Regions from separate parts of the Homo sapiens genome. Here region 1 is linked to region 2. The links come from fine-mapping of genetic effects on gene expression. Tissue or cell type: whole blood. Region 2 holds a variant in brackets; the other region holds the start of a gene. All regions are shown on one strand. Distances are between the middles of the regions.

Evidence for each region. PIP is the estimated chance that this variant, and not a neighbour inherited with it, causes the effect.
Region 1: ARHGAP19 starts here. The variant in region 2 is fine-mapped to the expression of ARHGAP19 in whole blood (TOPMed, PIP above 0.99).

The regions. Positions count from the first base shown.
Region 1 is chr10:97,291,446-97,294,130 of GRCh38, forward strand. It overlaps ARHGAP19 (Rho GTPase activating protein 19), which reads right to left and starts at 1,192. Exons shown (of 12, transcript NM_032900.6): 1 at 1,127-1,192. The coding sequence starts at 1,182. It overlaps ARHGAP19-SLIT1 (ARHGAP19-SLIT1 readthrough (NMD candidate)), which reads right to left and starts at 1,228. Exons shown (of 15, transcript NR_037909.1): 1 at 1,127-1,228. RefSeq lists enhancers at 4-762, 763-1,519 and a silencer at 864-913.
Region 2 is chr10:97,212,964-97,215,648 of GRCh38, forward strand. All of the region lies in intron 11 of ARHGAP19-SLIT1 (ARHGAP19-SLIT1 readthrough (NMD candidate)), which reads right to left. Among named protein-coding and RNA genes, the nearest start is that of SLIT1, 28 kb to the left of the region's middle. The variant C/T (reference allele first, on the strand shown) is at 1,381.

The DNA of each region.
Region 1 (2,685 bases), 78 kb after region 2:
ACCACACCCGGCTAATTATTGTATTTTTAGTAGAGACGGGCTTTCATCATGTTCGCCAGGCTGGTCTCGAACTCCTGATCTCAGGTGATCCGCTCCCCTCGGCTTCCCAAAGTGCTGGGATTACAGGCGTAAGCCACCATGCCCGGCCCCGTATGATATTTTAAATAACACACTCAACCACGCTCATCTGGGCTCAGGAAGAAGCCGAGTCACAAAGTTATTAGTTTCCCAAGATTCTTGGAATCTCTTATTCGGTACAAATGGAACCAAAAGACGCCAAACCGAAGTATTTTACTGAGTTACACTGAGGCAACGTAAATAAACTCAATCTATTGAATTACACCAAAAACAAAATTGTAATCAATTAAGACAACTTAGGTCTCAAGGCTAAGGCAACACCACCTCGAAATTCTCTCCTGAAAACGCTAAATCTCGGTGTGGCTGTTTAGGAAAGAACATCCTGTGGAAATAAAGTCATGATGTCCTGGACTACAGATCCCTCTCCCATCTGCTCCTTAGCTGTTCTACTAGGAAGAAGAAAATCTATTGCGTAGAGTTGTCATTATCGGCTAAACTCAGTGCTAGCTTTAAATGGATTGTCTTATTCAATCTTGACACTTGGAAATAGGCATCCTCACGTCCCTTTGCAGATGAAGAAACTGAAGTCGAGAGAGGTTTAAAAACTGGCCCAAGGACTCAACACTGTTTCTAATTGACACTCAAATCCTTGCTCGGACCTGAACGCACAAAGTGCCTCGGAGAAGATGTGAAGCGCTGTGTGCAACAGTGAGGAATTCGCTAACCAGCCCTGGACTTCCGTTTCCTCGCCATCAAGAGGTGTCTCGGCGCCAAAGCGATCAGCGCTGCCACCCCCAGCTGGACGTCTGCAGCCAGCGCAGCGGGAGGAGCCCCCTCGGGCACCGGCAGGACCGAGCGGGGGGTTTGGCTGGAGTCCAGCGCCCAGGCCCGACCCCCGCGCCTCAGCCCCCGCAGGCGCGACGATGAGAAACGCCGTGGGAGAAAGAAACAAAGCCCGAACCGTGCGCCTCCGTGACCCAAGGCAAAGGCGGCAGGACTACCAGCCCAAGGCCGCGTTTCCCAGGAAACTGGACCAAACTCAGCTCACCTCCGGCCGGATTCGCGGGCTGGCACCTCCCCTTCACTCTGTGCCTCAGTCGCCATCTTCGTCAGCAAACTTCTTTCACCGCCCCACCTTACGTCCCGCCCCCACATATTTGGATTGGCTAATATGTTTTCACCTCTTCCGTGCGATTGGATGACTCGACCGCCCCTCCTCAACCTGAACCGTTTAATATATTATTGGTCTATTCAAATGACTAACCGTCATTGGTCGTTCCCAGCCCTGGCGGAAAAAGAGGGAGGGGCGGGGAAGAAGACCCAGCCCCGAGGCCTGCCGGGAGTTGTAGTTTCTCATTTTGATGAACCCTTCCGATTCCACAGACCTTTAGGTTCAAGTCAGAAATCACCAGCCTATGCTCAAATTTTGTCCTGATATGTAAATCAGGGAATTATAGAACTGTCAACTTTGAAAGTGACTCATCACTTTCTAAAATGCAAGACTCCGTACCCTATATCTCAGCATCACACAATATACCCAGATAACAAACCAACTCATGTACCCCCTAAATTTAAAATAAAAGTTGAAAATAAATAATTTTTTTTTACAATTTTTTTAATTTTTTTTTTCTGTTGAGACAGGGTTTCACCATGTTGCCCAGGCTGGTCTCGAACCCCTGAGCTCAAGCAATCCTCCTATGTCAGCCTCCCAAAGTGCTGGGATTACAGGCATGAGGCACTGCACCCAGCCATAAATTAATTCATTTAATTTAATGTAATTTAATGCAAGACTCGTTCTCTGTCTTGACCCAGAGATAAATCCCTCAAGTGCAGGCAGGGAGTGGCAACCTAGAAGTACTTGCTTTTAAACGTATAGTTCAAAGCCTTCTTTCTTCAGATACTCAGCATAGCCCTAGCCATAGGTCATTTCTTTCTTCCTTTATTTCTTTCTTTTTTTTTTTTTTTTGAGATAAGGTCTCCCTCTGTCTCCCATGCTGGAGCACAGTACAATATTGCAGCATACCAACACACAGGGCAAATTTTTGTACTTTTTGTAGAGATGGGGTTTCACCCTGTTGGCCAGGCTGGAGTCGGTCATTTCTGCTTCAATACATTCACTCCCTTCCAACTTCCCAGAGAACCCACAGAGTTTGCCTTGTGATATGAACCATGGAACCAAAAGCTGCATGACTTTGTCCCAAACTAAACTTTAATCCTCAATGGTAGGAATAACCATAATTATCCTTGTCCTCCCTGCGGCACACACTTCTCCTAGGGATTAACTGAGGCAACATATGTGAGAACATTGTAAATTTTGAGCATTGTTGTTTTTTGTTTTTCCATATTGTTTTCCTATGCTGGACTTTTCTCGGGAATTTCTGTATTGATCCTTCTGATATCCTGCCACCTGGGGCTCTCCCTGCACTCTGCCTCCTTTTTACTAAACTGTACTGCACATGCTTCACTTTCTGAACTGTCTTAGGGCTTTTGCACATGTTGCTTTTTCTGGCTCGTCCATTTTTCCACTTTTTTGGCTTTCAGGTCGAAGCTTAAATGTCACTGGCTCAAAGATCTTCCATGACCCCCATTGTATAAATCAATTCCCTC
Region 2 (2,685 bases):
CTAAAAATACAAAATTAGCCTGGCGTAGTGGCACATGCCTGTAATCCCAGCTACTCGGGAGCTGAGGCAGGAGAATCGCTTGAACCCAGGAGGCAGAAGTTGCGGTGAGCCAAGATCGTGCCATTGCACTCCAGCCTGGGCAACAAGTTGTGCCTATAATCTCAGCTACTTGGGAGGCTGAGGCATGAGAATCACTTGAACCCAGGAGGCAGAGGTTGCAGTGAGCCAAGATCGTGCCACTGCACTCCAGCCTGGGGGATAGAGCAAGACTCTGTCTTTAAAAAAAAAAAAAAAAAAAAACAAAACACCTGTTTATCCAAAGTACTGTCTAGAAGTCATTTTGGGGAAACGATGCCTGCAGTGTAGCCTGACTCTCTCACAACACACTCTATCCTACCCTTTCCTGTCTACCCCTCAGGGCTTCCATTTCCCTCCTCCTCTCATCTGCAGCCCCGACTCTTGACAGCCCTACCTTCCTGGACCATCCAGCACCTCCCTTCCATCAACCCCCCACCCAAGACTCTGACATCCCTGACGACTCCCTGTGAAACATCACCAGCTAAATAAATACACACGGAATGAATGAACTCTGGGCCCTCAAAACATCCACCTCTGCCCCACAGCGCCCCAAGCCCCCGTCCTTATGTAACTCGTCTCTAAGTAACAGCTCCAGGAAGTGTCCCTGGACCTCCCGTACACATCTTTCCGGGCCTCCGCCCACCCACCCTTCCACCTTACTTTCCCACCCTCACCAAAGGCCTCGTATGTGCCAGGCATTGCACTAGGTAGTGTGGAAACAGAATATAAAGAACAGCTCTGGCCTTCAAGGAACTCAGATTCCCATAAGCCAGAACCAGTCTTCTTATTCCTGCTATTGCTCCCAGAAACATGTCACAAGCATCCTCCTTTGTCCACATCAGAACACCTGGAAACACAGGGTCAGCCAGAGTGGGAGGCATGGTCAGCACACCAACTGTGAGTTAGCAGGGGTTTAATAACAAAAGCCATCTCCAGTGACAGAAATGAAATCACTGGCAGCCTGGGGCAGGGGCATGGGGAACTGACTGCAAAGTGGCATGAGAGAACTTTCTGGACTGACGGAAATGTACATCTTAATTGGGGTGGTGGTTACAGAGACGTATATGTTTGTCAAAACTTATCGAACTGGCCGGGCGCAATGGTTCATACCTGTAATCCCAGCACTTTGGGAGGCCACGGCGGGCAGATCACTAGAGGTCAGGAGTTCGAGACCAGCCTTGCCAATATGGTGAAATCCCCATCTCTACTAAAAATGCAAAAATTAGCTGGGCATGGTGGCGCTTGCCTGTAATCCCACCTACTTGGGAGGCTGAGGTACGAGAATCACTTGAAACCAGGAGG[C/T]GAGGAGGCTGCAGTGAGCCGAGATTGCGCCACTACACTCCAGCTTGGGCGGCAGAGTGAGACTCAGTCTCAAAAAAAAAAATGTATCAAACTATATGCTTAATAGAGTTAATTTAAAAAGAGATAGACTCAAGTCCCCCACACTGCCCCTCACTAATGCATCAACTGGGCCTAAGTCGCCATCTTTCTGAAACTGTTTCTCTAACACATGGTTTGTGGGCTAGTTCAATGATTTTCAAGCCACTTATTTAAACAAAATCTTACTCTAAACCAGGTAAAAGGGAGCTCCCTGGCTGAAGAGGATGCGGAGAATCAGGTGCTGTCCTTCTGACCCCCTTCCCCTCCTCACAGTAACCCTGGCGGCACTGCATAAACCTATCTGAAACCATTGGGATCCATTGTCTCTAAGGTCCCAAATAGCAATGACCGTCTTTGATTCTATGTCTCTGCTAAAGATTTGCTTCAGACTAAATATATCCCCTTTTCCTCCACACCAGATGGTTCTATATTCCTCCCCATGTGGAAAGAGTAGGTTTTCATGCTCCCATGGAAGAGGGAAGCAGAGACAAGAAAGAAGGCCATGTCTCTCCTCTCCATTCTCCTCTTCCTAGGTCATGTCACAAAGCACATACGGCGGGTGTTTAAGAAGGGGCTACAATATAAGACCTCTCATTAATGGCCAATTTTGGTTACATCAAAGTACTTATTAAAGCCTGGATCACTGGGTCATTAGATGTCCATTAAATCCCCATGGCTCTTCATCAGAGAGGCAGAAGGCCCTGGCCCAAGGCCTCTAACCTGAGCAGAAAGACTTAGTGGGTCTGTATGCCCAGGGCAGTAGCTCACGGGGGTGGGGTGACATTTTTAGTGTTTGTCCTGTCCTCTGACCAGCTCTCCCTGCTTCTCCTCCCCAGAGTGGACTAAGGACTAACTAAAGGAAAAAAGATGTGGCCAAGGTTCTGGTGGAGTAGGTTGTTGGGGAGAAAGGACAGCATAGGATTAGAGGCCCAGAGGTTCTGGGACAATCACTATATAACATGGGCCACATGTGTAATTTTATATTTTCTAGTTAGCCACATTAAAAAGGTTAAAAGAAACAGGTAGAATTCATTTTAATGATACATTTTATTAACCCAACATATTCAAAATCTCATTTCAACATGTCATCAGTGTAAAAAATTATCGAGATATTTTTATATTCCTTTTTTCTTCCTACATCTTTGAATTCTGTTATTTCGCACAGCACATCTCAGTTCAGATGGGCCACGTTTCCAGTGCTTAATATGCACCTGTGGCCAGAGACGA